Homo sapiens: one gene and its partner. The protein of the gene in region 1 purifies or fractionates together with the protein of each later gene. This does not show direct contact. Each region holds a gene or a part of one and is shown on either strand. Other genes may lie near its edges.

Region 1 (7,581 bases):
GGCCCTGGGGAGAGGTGCCAGCATCCCTGGAGCTGAGCCACCTGCTGGCAACATGCTGGGCTTCTCCACTCCTGCAGGGCAAGGTGAAGGAGCGGAGAGAACGCATTGTGCTGGAGTTTGAGAAGATGAACCTCTACCTGGTGGAAGAAGAGCAGAGGCTCCTCCAGGCTCTGGAGACGGAAGAAGAGGAGACTGCCAGCAGGCTCCGGGAGAGCGTGGCCTGCCTGGACCGGCAGGGTCACTCTCTGGAGCTGCTGCTGCTGCAGCTGGAGGAGCGGAGCACACAGGGGCCCCTCCAGATGCTGCAGGTGAGCCAGTAGGCTTGGCAGGCAGGGTGGGATGTGAGCTCTGACAGGCATGGGCAGGGGGCGCTGGGCTTGGGGAAGAGGCAGCCAACGGGAAAGGGCTGTTAGCTCCCAGTCTGCTAGTCCTGGAGGCTGGGTGGCTGAGGCCAAGGTGCGGGCAGGCCTGGTTCCTCCTGAGCCTCTCTCCTAGGCCTGAAGATGCCGTCTCCTCCCCGCGTCCTCATGGCATCATCTCTCTATGCACGTCTCTGTCCTAATCATCTCCTTGTATAAAGACACCAGTCAGACTGGATTAGGGCCCACCCCAGTGACCTCAACTCCCTCCTTAAAGATGCTATCTCCAAACACAGTCACATTCTGAGGTCCTGAGGGTTCAGGCTTCAACCTGTGAATTAGTGGGGACACAAGTCAGCCCCTTACAGGTTCCAACCTGAGACAGTGTCCCCATTTCCTTCCAAGTCCAGAGAGGTGGCTTGGGACACCTGGCAGCCAGGTGTGGCTTTGGGACAGGGACTCCATGTCTCGGTGTGGAGGAGGTGCACTGTCCCAGGAGTGAGTTGTGTGGCAACGGCAGTGGGGAGGTGAAGCAGCCAGCCTGTCTGCCGGGACCAGCCTGTGTGCCATGGCCCTGGAGAGGGGGCTTGATTACGGCTGATAAGACGCCATCTCTACAAAAACTTAAAAATATTAGCAGGGCATGGTGGCGTGCGCCTGTGGTCCCAGGACTCAGGAGGCTGAGGCAGGAAGACTGCTTGAGCCCGTGAGTTCAAGGCTGTAGTGAGCTATTGCGCCACTGCACTCCACCCTGGGTGATGGTGAGATCACATCTAGGAAAAAAAAAAAAAAGGAAAAGGAAAAACAAAGCAGCCTGTTCACAACCCACTACATTGGTTTGCTGACCAACTGAGGGAAAAGCCCCTGCAGCTGGTAGAAGGGTGCTCCTATGAGCAGAGGGCCAAGCGCGCCACCTGCATGAGAGTCCCTGCCTAGAGTTAGGGTCACGCTCTGGCAACTAGAAATATGGCCTTTGGAAAACAAGTCCCTTGTAGCTTCCAGGCCAGAGAAGTAAACAGTGATCTCTTTAGGGAACTCTGAATCCCTAAAGAGGCTACAGAAAATCCCCAGGTGCCTCAGTCTCTTACCCACCCCCCTCCCTCCCCAAACTGCACCCAATTGCGCCCCCACCCCATTCCTGCTGAGTGGGCTGCACCCACCTGAAATGGGAGAGGAGGGTCAGTGTTGAGTGGCCACTTGCCTGGAAGGGGTCCCTCCGCCTCTCCTGAGTTGCAGGACCTCAGGCGTGTGGCCGTGGGCTGACAGGGTAGCTCAGCTTAGGTGAGGCACTGGGGGCTCTGGTGGTAGTGGGAGCTAGGGCAGTGGGGAAGGCTCAGGAGTGCCATGAAGCTCAATTGTGGGAAGGGAATGCCCAGGGGACAGGATGGGTCTTGCCCTAAGACACGGACAAGAAGGGAGCAGGGACATTGAGGTGAGCCAGGAGCTTGGCTCACTCCCCACCCTCCGTCCCTGTCTTTTGCAGGACATGAAGGAACCCCTGAGCAGGTATGTGGTCCCCTCAGGCAGGGGCGGGGGCAGTGGCAGCGGTGGGCGGGGGGGACAATAAGACTGTCGGGCCAGGGGAGTCAATAAGACTCCCCTGTGTGTGCCCACCGGAGGAAGAACAACGTGAGTGTGCAGTGCCCAGAGGTTGCCCCCCCAACCAGACCCAGGACTGTGTGCAGAGTTCCCGGACAGATTGAAGTGCTAAGAGGCTTTCTAGGTAAGTGGGCACCCAGGGCCAGGACCTCTGACCCAGGATCTCTTGGCGATGCCCCACTGTACCCCCTAGCCTCGGAAGCCACCAATGGGGGGGGTTCTACAAGTGCACTGCCTGGTGACGGTCACTGGCTATTCACTGTGCCTTCGTAGGGCGGCGTTACTGGTGGTTCTAATTCATGGGATGAATCTTGTTGAGTTCCCAGTGGTCTCTCTGCCCAGCCCCCTGTACCTTATTGCCACCAAGGCCCACACACAATTGGTGTGTGGAAGCATCAAGTAACCCCAGATTCACAGCAGGGGAGGCCTCTGCGGAGTTAGGGGACCATTGGCCACATCCACCACTAGGGCCCGGGGACTCCCACCTTTGACCCTGAATGCCCCACACCTCTCCCCATCTCTCCACCACCACGCCCATCTACAGAGGATGTGGTGCCTGATGCCACCTCCGCGTACCCCTACCTCCTCCTGTATGAGAGCCGCCAGAGGCGCTACCTCGGCTCTTCGCCGGAGGGCAGTGGGTTCTGCAGCAAGGACCGATTTGTGGCTTACCCCTGTGCTGTGGGCCAGACGGCCTTCTCCTCTGGGAGGCACTACTGGGAGGTGGGCATGAACATCACCGGGGACGCGTTGTGGGCCCTGGGTGTGTGCAGGGACAACGTGAGCCGGAAAGACAGGGTCCCCAAGTGCCCCGAAAACGGCTTCTGGGTGGTGCAGCTGTCCAAGGGGACCAAGTACTTATCCACCTTCTCTGCCCTAACCCCGGTCATGCTGATGGAGCCTCCCAGCCACATGGGCATCTTCCTGGACTTCGAAGCCGGGGAAGTGTCCTTCTACAGTGTAAGCGATGGGTCCCACCTGCACACCTACTCCCAGGCCACCTTCCCAGGCCCCCTGCAGCCTTTCTTCTGCCTGGGGGCTCCGAAGTCTGGTCAGATGGTCATCTCCACAGTGACCATGTGGGTGAAAGGATAGACACAGACCGGGGGACTCGGGCACTGCTCCTGGCTCTGCAGAAGGTGTGGGCCTTCTGCTTACTGCAGGCCACCTGCCAGGGTTCTCTGGCATCACGCTGGCAGCCATTAGACACACAGGGGGGTTTCTCAAATTCTAAATATAATTGTGATTAGAACTGTCAAACATTAAGAGGGTATACTGACAGATGCTTCCTAGAGGAAACTTTTGAAAGCCCCTGCGTTCTGAGTGGACCGATTTCTAAATCCATACCTACACACCAGGAACAGCGTGGTCACGTTTTTTTTAGCCATGCCCCCACCCCCACTTTGGAATGACAGGAATCTGTGGCTCCCAGCCCCCCCAGGGGTTTAGGTTACTCTGTCAAAGAAGTAGAAATATCCTATGGTGGGGAGGAGCGGGGGTGGTTGCTGTGTCAGGGATGGTCCCAGGCTGCCCATAGAAATGTCCTATGCATCCTATTGGGTCCTTCGATGGGGGAAAATGGGAAAGGCTGAACCCGTAAAAAGCCTCAGAGCTGCCCACCCCCATCCCGTTCGATCCCCAAAGTTGCACGAGCAGGGGCAAAATCCCAAAGAGATTAGGATTTATGTAGGGGCCTCTTTTCCACAGCGCCCTTACCTTTTCCAAGGAACCCCCCACCCACCCCTGCAGGGTCAAGCACTTTAACAGCCTGTGTCAGTCACTAGCAAGGCAGAATTCCAGAGTAAGCGTACTCCTACCTCGACAAAGCCGGAGTGTCTGCGCGAGGGGCTGCCTGGAACAGCATGCCCCTTTGGAGTGGTTCCCGCAGAAAGAATGTGGGCCTCCTGGAGAGCTGGTCCTGGAGGGATGCCCCCGTCCCATCCCCCAACTCCAATCATTCTGACCTTGGCCTGCCAAGGCTGTGAGGGCCGGGCCTTCCGAGGATACCCGCCCTGGGAAGCACGGGCTGAGGGGGTGAGGACGCACTAGGGGTATGGCGAAGGGCTCCAATGCCCCAGGCTGCGGACTCCCTTAGTCCTTGCAGTTGCTTCCGTGTGCCCCGCCCTGAGTCCCCATCCCTCCTTGCCCTGCCCCCTGCTCCATCCCTCCCCTGCGCCCCGCCCCCTGTCCCCATCCCTCCCCTGCGCCCCGCCCCCTGTCCCCATCCCTCCCCTGCGCCTGAGTCCTCCCCAGGGCAGGGGTAAAAGACCTGGCCACAAGAACCGGAGCGGTGGTGACGCCAGGTCAGCAAGTGAAAGCTCTCCAATTCCGTCCCGCCCGCGGGCCGCGTGACTGGCAGCGGCCAATCGGAGGCAAAAGCGGGTTGTTCCAAAAAAAAAAAAAAAAAAAAAAAAAAAAAAAAAAAAACACACAAAACCCACCCAGTCGCTTCCTGCTTCCGCCTCGGCTCCTCTTCCTGCCGGCATCCGGGATCCCTACGTCCCGCGTCCCCCGAGCGCTCGGAGCCTACGCGCCCAGCGCTACCGAAACCCAGAGTCCTGCGCCCTGGAGTCCCCGCGCCCCGGAGCCCGAGCACCCGGGAGTCCCGAGCCTCGCGCCCCGGAGTGCCCGAGCCTGCGCCGCCGCACCCGGATACCCCGCGTCCCCGCGAGCTGCCGAGGCCGCCCGCCGCCGCCCCGCGGACAGTACCGCCTTCCTCCCCTCTGTCCGCGCCATGGCCGCCCCCGACCTGTCCACCAACCTCCAGGAGGAGGCCACCTGCGCCATCTGCCTCGACTACTTCACGGATCCGGTGATGACCGACTGCGGCCACAACTTCTGCCGCGAGTGCATCCGGCGCTGCTGGGGCCAGCCCGAGGGCCCGTACGCGTGCCCCGAGTGCCGCGAGCTGTCCCCGCAGAGGAACCTGCGGCCCAACCGCCCGCTTGCTAAGATGGCCGAGATGGCGCGGCGCCTGCACCCGCCGTCGCCGGTCCCGCAGGGCGTGTGCCCCGCGCACCGCGAGCCACTGGCCGCCTTCTGTGGCGACGAGCTGCGCCTCCTGTGTGCGGCCTGCGAGCGCTCTGGGGAGCACTGGGCGCACCGCGTGCGGCCGCTGCAGGACGCGGCCGAAGACCTCAAGGTGCTCCTGGGCGGGGGTGGCGTGCAGGGGCGTCGGGGAGCCGGGGACTGGGGAGGCCTGGGCGGGTGGGAGGTTTGGGGGACTGCTCCGGGAGTAATCTGTCTCTGTCTAGGGCGGGGAGCTCAGGATGCAGCCTGCTGTGGGCCTGTGAGGGGGGTGTCGCGCAGGGTGGCTGTGGGGGCTCATGACACAGCCTGTTTCAACCAGGCCCCTTGAGGCTGGGACCATGGCCGCCAATGAGACCCTGCTCTCGGGGGTGAGGGGCGTACCTCTCATAGATAGAGGCTAAGAGAGGAAGGTGGAAGGTGGAAGGTGGTGGAGTGGGGGCAAGGAAAATGTGGCCATACCCTGGCCAGCAAGGAGCTGGAATCAGAGGAAAGTGGGAGAACCTCAGAGGTGGCCGATCCTAGATGGACTCCCTGCAGGGACTGTGTTAGCAGGTCAGTACTTAAGTCCTGGGAAAGCCCCAGACTGGGCAGGATGAGGGGGACACAGTCGTTTCCTCTCTAACCTCCCCTCCAGGGCTGCCCTGCATTTCTGGGTGGGGTACTGGGAGCCATCTCTGCCATCTGAGATGCCAGGGCTCAGCCTGCCTTTTCTCCCCTTGTCTTGCTGCTTAAAACCCAAATAAAACCCGAGCTGAAGGGCCTGGGGCACACGTTCCCTGGCCTGCGCTCCCTCCCGCTGTCCTCTTTCCTCGCTGACCTGCTGCAGGTGTGCTCCTGGGAGCCTACGTGTGGGGCAGATGGCAGCATCTTTGGAGCTTTCTTGATTGCACTTTGTGTGTTGCATCATGGTCACTTGTGTGTGCCAGATGAGCAGTTAAGGCAGTGTTAGAATCAGTACTGAGCTTGATCTGTCCCTATCACAGAGCAAACTTCTGGGATACTAGAATAAATCTGAATCTGTCCCCTTCTGCTTTGGATTTTAGCAGAAAGGTGGTTTAGAGCCATATCCGTGGGCTTGTTCAGACACAGATTCATTTGGGTTTTCTTTTCTTTGCCCATGCAGGAATGTCTACACCTGAAACATGTTAGCCCAGCAGAATTACCCTTGTGACACCAATTACCCCAATGGGTGCAGAGAGTGCCCAATAGCTCTATAGAGTTGACTCGATATAGTTTCATGGGATAGCACTTAACCCTTTCTTTTGCAGGTGAAGAAAAAAATTTCCCTCTACCCTGTTAGGTTCAGTGGCTCAGGGCTGCAAATTAAACTGGCACAAGACAAATTAACAGGAAAAAAAATCATACAATTTGATTAATATTTTAAGTTTCACATGCACAAGAACTTCATAGAAAAGCGTATTTCAGCAAAGGTTTGTGAATTGTGGAGAAGTGACTGGACACAGAAATGGGATTGGGCGTCTAGGACTGATAAATTGTGGGAAAGTGACTAGGAAATAGATGGGAAGAATTAACACAAGATAATGGTCATTGTAGTAAGGTCTGTTTAGGCAGAATCATCTCCCAGGATTAGAGTGCCCTCCTCTTCCTGGTAGAGAGAGGGTGCCTTTCTCATGGGGAATGAATACCCTACTTTTAGGCAGATAGGAGTACAGAGAGCTCTTCCTGCATCTGCTTTTACTCAGAATAATTCTTGTACCACAGCGGTATATTTGGGGATGACATCCTGTTCTTCACTGCCTTAGAGCCTAGGTTATGTTAACCACAGCAAACTGCTTTTACCTGCCCCCATGGGCCTAGAAAGCTCAGTCCCACCTATGGGGCTGTGTGTCCACTTGCCAGAGCTGGGGCCCATTAGCTCCATGACAGGTTCACTCCTTGCCTGGCCCTGACCTGGGGTCATGACAGCTGAACAAGCCCCAGGCTGGGTTGCCCCGAGGTGGTAAACAGGGAAGTCCCAGTAAGCTCCAGTTCCAGGAAGCAGCACCATGGGAGAGAGAAGATGGCCCCCAGATCTCTCTGGGTTGTGTGTCAGATGGCACTTGTGTGGGGAGGGGGTTTGCCACAGGAAGGAGGAGGCCAGGGAAGATCCCAGGCCTGCACCAAGCCCCAGCATCCCAGTTCTGACTACACGCAGGGTAAGAGGTTTCTGTTCTGATCTGGCCAGAGACACAAAGATGCAGGTACCTGAAATGCAAGATCTTTGCCATGCTGGGTATGTTGTGCTGCTTTACAGCCCATTCCATCTGATCAAATGCTGTTTGTAACCTTAGTGTTGAAAACTGAAAACGTTGGCCAGGTGTGGTGGCTCACGCCTGTAATCCCAGCAATTTGGGAGGCCGAGGTGGGCGGATCACCTGAGGTCAGGAGTTTGAGACCACCCTGGCCAACATGGTGAAATCCCATCTGTACAAAAAATACAAAAATTAGCTGGGTGTGGTGATGGGCACCTGTAATCCCAGCTACTCAGGGGGCTGAGGCAGAAGAATCACTTGAACACAGGAGGCAGAGGTTGCAGTGAGCCGAGATCGTGCCACTGCACTCCAGCTTGGGGGACAAAGCGAGACTCCGTCTC
Region 2 (7,756 bases), on another chromosome or scaffold:
ACAGGCACAGTAATCATTAGTACAGCAGAGCACTGTGGGAAAGCTGCAGCATATTCATGCACAGTTTGATATTTGATTTGAATGATGCTCTTCAATCATAAAAGTTCAATTATTCAATTCAGTAAATACTTGTTTAGAGCCAGATATGTGTAAAATCAATGTGTACATACTGTCAAGAGTATGAAAATCAGTGAGATGATTCTGATATTCAACTTGGAGCAAACTTTCTAATAGCTAGAAAAAGACAATGCACAGATAACTAAGTTACTATATAATACAGAAAAAAAAGAAATAAAAGTAAATATTAAAGAAAGGGAAAGGAGGCATTCTAGACATAGGCGATAGATAGCTTCCATAAACTTATGGGTGTCAAAATCCATGTTTGGGGAATGGCCAGTAATACAGCATGGAGTAAATCTGAGCCTATCGTGGGAAGTGAATGAACACGGCACTTCAGATTAGTGTGGATAGATGTGAATGGGTGCATGTGCAGCAGCCAGTCTCTGTCAAAGCACAAGTAAGCCATGACTGTGTTTCAGAGATTTCCTACAAAGCCTCAAATTCTAAAAATCCACGCTGATTCAGAAAATTCATTCAGGATGAGTAATAGCTGAGACATTAATTGTGGACAGATTTGCAGCAGGGAGGTATGAACCCCAGTTTGGACATGTGGAGTTCAGACTGCTTTAGAGATTGAAGTATACATTTCTAGTTGGCAGTTGAATTTGGAGGTCTAGAAATCAGGGGGCAGTACTGTGCTGGAAAATGTAAATTTGGGATTATATTGATGCAAAACTGTGTTCTTCTATGTTGCTGAAGATTTAGTAGCACATATATTATGAAATGATATTGCAAATGGTAACTGTAAAACAGACATTATAGTAGTCATGAGCTATTTTTTTCCACATCAGTATCTCAGCTATTAACCCCTGAAAGATTGTTTGAAACATAATTGTAAAAAGAAACGAATGCCTCGTAGAACACAGTTTCTAATAAATACAGCATTTTTGGTGTGCGTCCATATCATCATCCCTCCTGTCTGCTTATTTCAACCTTTTCTTTGTCCTGATGTATTTAAGTGAGAAAATGGGTTTTGTGAGTGGATTCTTACTATGGATATTTTAAGTTCAGAAGTAACCATCCTATAATTGCATCTATCCTTAATGACTAAAAGAGGACCTTTTGGGGTGTGTTTTATTGATTTCTCTATAAAATTTGCCAATCCCAGATTGCCTTTATAATCTGCTTAAGAAACAGAATGAGATCACAGGGAGAAATAGTATTTGTATTAAATAATTACTAAGCTGCAAACTCACTGAAGGAATTTAACTCTTCTTGAGCTGGAATGGACTACAGTAGAATGAATATGGCTTCATGGCTTCTGCGTAGCATGACCTCAAAGCCTTTTTTTGTGTGACATTTGATATGCACATGGATGAAAGATTTTCTGAGGCCTGATGTGGAAAACGGGTTGGTCGGTCTCTCTCTTCACACTGCACCCCCTCCAAAACACTAAAAGAGGTGCTTTTAGTGTTTACTTTCAATTGCTACATTGTTTGATTTTGAAGTGTCCGCTTCATTTATTCCTTGTGGTGAAAACTCAGTGGGTCCTTTTCATCTGGAACCTCAGATCCCTCAGTTTTGCGAAAAATATATAACATTGATGATTTTTCTCCCTCTGCTTTCTTTTTCTTTATATTGGTAGTTGGACATCGTCATTTCAGTTTCTGAACCTCTTGGACTAGTCCTCTAATATTATACAGTTCTGCACCATTTTTTTTTATCTCTGTCTTTTGCTACTTGGAGAGTTCCTCAGTTTGTCTTCCAACCTTCTATCAAATTTTTCATCTTTGCTCTCATGTTTTTAGTTGCAGGAGTTTCTATTTGTATTCAAAATTTTTAAATAGAGCATTCTTGTTTCAGCATTGTAGCGTCTTTTATTAACTCTCTGAAGGGTCAGTTGTTCAAGTCTCCTGTCCCCAAGATGTGGGCCTGGGTTCCCTTGCTCTGCATTTGGAGCAGGGGAGATGGCCGGCCAGCCCAGCTGTCAGAGTGGAAGTTACCCTGTCAACTGTTCTCCTAATGCAGTTTGAGCAAGTGTTTTACTTCCTTTCAGAATCAGTTTCTGGTCTACTGCTGGGAATTAGGGAGTGCTTGATAGCTAGCCATTTGTGGACAGGGGATATGGGAATTGAACTGCTTTTTAATGAGAGTTCATCTAGTCCTGCAATCTCAGCCCCACCCTCACCCCTGTTTTCACTGCTGCCCATTTCCTCAGTATTTTTGGGGTGGATTGCAAGGAAATAAGTTTCTTTCTTAACTAGAGTCAGGTAAATTTTAAGTTAACCATCTGCTTTCTAGATTCTTAATTTTTAAATGGTTTCCTTTCCCATTTTCTTACTTCTTACGAGTTTGGACATTTTATTTATTTATTTATAATAGACACAGGGTCTGACTGTTCCCCAGGCTGGCCTTGAACTCCTGGGCTCAAGCAGTCTTCCTGCCTCGGCCCCCCCAAAGTGCTGGGATTACAGGCATGAGCCACTGTGCCCGGCTGAGTTTGTACATTTTAAACTCTGCAGTGTTGTAGAAGAATTTTTGGTGGGAGTGTAAGTACACCATTCCATTAATTTCTCCATCTTTGAAAATTTTTGCTCCTTCAATTGTTTTTAAAAGTGTAAGCAAAAATGTTGATTTTGAAGCAAACAGGGTAGATGTAGCTTTCTCCTATTTTTATATTTTTAACTATCATTTAAGTTGTTGAATTAGTAAGAGTACGCATTGGCCAAGTGTTTTACACCTTAAAAATGTATTCTTGCAATAAAGCAAAATGGCAAATAATACTGCAACTTTGTTTCTATCATGAAAATAATTATTCCTTTTAAATTCTCTGGCTTTTCTCCATGTATAGAGGTTTCTGCGGCAAGTCAAATTTTAGTTTTTATTCTTAAGCTTTTCTCAAAAATATTTGATTATAAATGTTCCTCAGTTTTCATTGTATTAGTATCTATATGCATTAGTGTTTGACACACACACATAGAGCTTTTAATGTCTTTGTCTATTTATAATAACATCTGTATCACTTCTAGATTGGTTTGAGTGAATTGATTGGGGGGGAGGTGGTCTCATGTATTGCATTTTTCTTGCTGCTTTGCATGCCCGTTAATTTCTAATTGTATGCCAGACTTTTACCTTGTTGGGTGGATATTTTTATATTCCTATAAATATCTTTGAGCTTTGTCCTGGGACACAGTTAAGTTAGTTGGAAATAATTTAAGGCATTTGGTCTTACTTTTAAAATGTATTTAGTTGTACTGGAACAATGCTTAGATTAGGTTTAGTTTTTTCCTACCACTGAGGCAAGACCTTTCTGTGTCCCTTACCCGTGGGGAATCCTTCAAGTCTTTCAGTCTTGTTCTTTTCTAGAGCCAGGCACTTTGACCTGGAATCCTTTTGGGTGGTTCCTTCCCTGGCCTCTGGAATTTTCTCTCAAGTATGCAACGATCAGGGTTCAGCTGAATATTTGAGTGGCAGCTCTCCCAGGACTCTCTGAGCTTTGGCTGCCTCGGTTTCCCTGGACTCTTGCTTAGTCTCCTCATGGAGTTGTCTGGAGACTCTCAAGCCAGTGAGTGGGGGCAGTTATAGGCTCACCTCAGTTGTTCCCAACTCTGTGTCATTTGTCCTTAGTTGTCTGATGTCCAGTGGCTTGAAACTTGTTGATACGTTTTGCCAGTTTTTTGGTTGTTTCAGCAGGAAGGTGAATCTGGTTCCTGTTACTATATCTTGCCTGGAAACAGAAGTCCCTCATATATATGCGTTTAGTCAAATAGGTGCACTTTTAGGCCCACCAAATAATACCAGACTAGTAGCTTTTGTAGGTCTCTCTCCAAAAAAAAAAAGATAAATAAAAAATACAAATTTTGGTGAGAAAATACTGTTAGCATTCTTGAACATAACAATTGAAATCTGGATAACAAAACTAATTTTTCTTGCCACAGTTAGAGATATTAATACATATTTTATTTCTTGCCATACAGATAACCCTGAGGTTTCCAGTTTCTTGATTCATTGACTCCTTGGTTTCCCACTTAGTTTGCATGGTGTACCCTAGTCAAAAAGAAATATTTCAGAGTTCTGTTTATTAAATATTTACTCTACAAACAACTTTGAAACAGACTATACATTTTATTTGTAAATAACCACATTTTTACTAATAGCATTTGTATTTTCTTGGGTGCTGTTCAAATTCTCAAACTTTGGAATCAGATTTTTGTACTGCCACCCTCTTTTCTTGTTCCACATTGATTTTTGTATGTTCTTGATTTTTATTACAGCAACCGCTAACAACCTAGCTTTGTAAAGATATGACATCATCAAAAAGAATGTAATGTGACCTTATGTTGAAACAGTCAGATATTCTGAGCTGGTGGTTCACACAGTGTCGGACAGATGGTACCCCTGTAAAATGCTGTGCTGACTCAGAGTTCACTCTTTGGAAATACATAGATGGCCCAGCATAGGATTGTGTCTGATTTTTTTTTTCCCTGTATCCCCTTACAATATGTGGATGCATTTTCATCCTAAAGATGTGTTGATTAAAAATAAAGCAGAAGCATTTACTGTTAAAATTTATTTTTAGCCTTATTGGCTAAGCTCAATCATGTGAATTGTTGCAGAAAGCAGTTTTATTATGCCTGCTTTATTTTCTTTTACTGGAATCTAACAATTAGGTAAATAGTAACTTCTAAAATAAAGGTCCAAAAACAGCAGATATTTATTGTTTGTCTGTGGTACCTTGCTGTGTGCCAGGTGCATTTATATTTACCATTTATATACTACTTATATATTCTTATTTTATTTAAAAACACTTTCTCTAAAACTTAAAACAGCGATTCTGAAATTATGCCAACTCTACTTAACCTCCCTGTAGCTTAACCAGGTTTTCAACATGGGGATATTTCTTACTAGAAGACATTAAGGAAATGAAATATAGATATTCTCTATGAAACTAGTATTTATGACTTGATATAATTAAAGAGTAGCCTTACAGTTAATTTTAAGGTATGGTCTGATGGGAATGTAGATAAAACTATTTTCATAATTACCGCATGAAATACTTAAAACAAGTGGTAGTCATCTTACACAATAACATCTATATGCAAAATACCTTTTCTAATGCTGAATACAACCAATGTCATTAAAAGCAGTTGTAATGAAGTGGAAAGATCACTGAATTAGAGAATGAAAACTTTGATTCAGTTCCTAAATTGACAGCCTGTTAGCTGTGTGACATTGAGAGGTGACCCCCTTAACCTTGATGACCTTCTGTTTACTTATAAGTAAAATGCAGAAATAATGACATGTTTCTCAAAGTGTTTTTCATGGTAATGTAAGGACAGTATCAGATGTATGTTGTATGATACTACATACATGATGATGATGTATGCTTCTAGTGCATAGGAGCACGCTTGGGGCTGATCTTTAGCATCTGGTTCTGTGCCTGGTAGATAGTAAGTGCTCAGTAAATACTTGTTGGATTAATTATCATTTGACCCAGTAGTCTCACATTCAATCAAACTTTGAGGACCCAGAAAAATAATTCAAAGACTTGTGCCATCATAGCAAAATAATGCAAACATAGCTGAAATAATTGACAACAGGTTAGTATTATGAAAGATGTGCTCTCTCTTTAAAGAGAATAATTTTAATCATGTACTCTGTAAATTTTTTAGGAGGAGCAAAATAGAGGCAAGCCCAATTGGGAGCATCTAAATGAAGATTTACATGTACTAATCACTGTGGAAGATGCTCAGAACAGAGCAGAAATCAAATTGAAGAGAGCAGTTGAAGAAGTGAAGAAATTATTGGTACCTGCAGTAAGTAATAATTTCCAGACCTTAGATTTGGGCCTCGTCCTTTTTTGTCAGTTTATTTTAAATTATCGTAATGTTTATAAGGAATAGGTTATTGGTTGTTAGAAATTTTATTTAAGCATAAAATTAAAAACACCTGACTGATACTTCTAACATAATAAAAACATAAAGTTCGTATTTAGGGGTCCTTAGATAGACATTAAAAGGGGTTTTGGAGGGTGACGTCGCGTAAGAAATTATCCAGATGCTTTTGTGTTATCAGTTCTCCTTCCTTCCCGGTTTCTCTTTCCCCATCTCTTCCCCCATCTCTTCCCTCTGCCCCCCTTCCTTGGGTTGGCTCCTTATTGTTTCTTAACCCTTTAATATTTTTAGAAATAATAATTGTACTACTCCCAGAGTATAATTTTTTTTTTTTTAACGGGAAATGAAAAATAAATTACTGGTTTTCTGGGCCATTAATTTTTTTTTCTTATATTAGTAAAACTATATGGAAATGTGGACCCTAATTTGCTATTGGAAAAACTAGGGCTGGGTGCGGTGGCTCATGCCTGTAATCCCAGCACTTTGGGAGGCTGAGGCGGTTGGATCACCTGAGGTCAGGAGTTTGAGCCCAGCCTGGCCAACATGGTGAAACCCCATCTCTACTAAAAATACAAAAAATAAGTCGGGCGTGATGGCAGGCACCTGTAATCCCAGCTACTTGGGAGGCTGAGGCATGAGAATCGCCTGAGCCTGGGAGGCAGAGGTTGCAGTGAGCTGAGATTGCGCCACTATACTCCAGCCTGGGTGACAGAGTGAGACCCTGTCTCAAAAAAGAAAAGAAAAAACTAGGAATACTGTTAGTATTGTGTCCAACAAAAAGCATTGGCATTTACATAAATGAGTTATGGTTCCTGCTGCTTTTTATTTCCCAGATAGCCTATTCTTTATTACCCTGATAGTTTATTCAACAAGTAAACTCACAAATCATAAACATTTCCCATTAACTTGATGAAATTAATTCCTTGGAATAAAAGAGTTTTATGTAAATTCTGTTGGTAGATTTTATTTTTTTTAATGATCAGGTTAAATATAAACTAAAATCTATATTTGTGTACTATTAAACCATGGAATCTTTCTCATTTTCCTTAATTGTGTGGTATTGAAAAACTGTATAGAAAAGGAGATTTTCGAAAGTATACTGGGCAATTAGTGTCATGATCAGAAAAAGTTATTTAACATCGACTTTTACTGCTTTAATAACATTTTCTTTTCTGTAGCTTACTTTATTGTAAGAATACGGTATATAACATATAAAACATACAAAATATATGTTGATCAACTGTCAGGCTTCCAGACGACAGTGGGCTATTCGTCACATTTTGGGAGAGTTGAAAGTTACACAAGGATCTTTGATGCAGTCTGTGTCCCTGACAACCGAGCCCTCCCTTGTTGTTTGAGGATCAACTGGATATTGTTAGCGTCTTTTAAATTTTCTATTTACCCAGTCACCTGTAATCTCTTGTCTTGCTTACCATTTTTATTTCTAGTGTTTAGCATAGAGCCCAGCACATAGCAATAACATAGTAAATTGAAAAATAAATGATTGAATCTTGTCATAAGGTAAAATCAGTTCCTTCATCTTCACTATAGAAATGCATAAAATAACTGAATTTTCCTGAAGCATCAAATGATTTGGGTTTTTACTTAAATAAATGTGGGAGACAGAATACATCATATTTTTGAGAACTCACTTCCTGGTTTTTGAATCCCAGCTTTGTGACTTTTAACTGTCTTCATTTTCTCATCTATGAGATTGGAACATGGCCAAGCATGGTGACTCATGCCTATAATCCCAACACTTTGGGATGCTGTGGTGGGAGGATCATTTGAGGTCAGGAGTT

Evidence for each region. Proteins that work in one complex are often made in the same cells at the same time.
Region 2: the proteins of TRIM11 (region 1) and QKI purify together in Homo sapiens (affinity purification with mass spectrometry; 2 studies listed by BioGRID and IntAct, with this or other methods). This does not show direct contact.

Annotation. Positions count from the first base shown.
Region 1 is NC_000001.11:228,403,673-228,411,253, reverse strand, and holds the start of TRIM11 (E3 ubiquitin-protein ligase TRIM11), read left to right. Parts: upstream 1-4,418; 5' UTR 4,419-4,692; coding exon 4,693-5,100; intron 5,101-7,581. Other genes in the region: E3 ubiquitin-protein ligase TRIM17, read left to right, coding at 78-308, 1,843-1,865, 1,979-2,082, 2,503-3,053.
Region 2 is NC_000006.12:163,529,250-163,537,005, forward strand, and holds part of QKI (KH domain-containing RNA-binding protein QKI), read left to right. Parts: intron 1-5,732; coding exon 5,733-5,876; intron 5,877-7,756. UniProt on the Homo sapiens protein: RNA reader protein, which recognizes and binds specific RNAs, thereby regulating RNA metabolic processes, such as pre-mRNA splicing, circular RNA (circRNA) formation, mRNA export, mRNA stability and/or translation.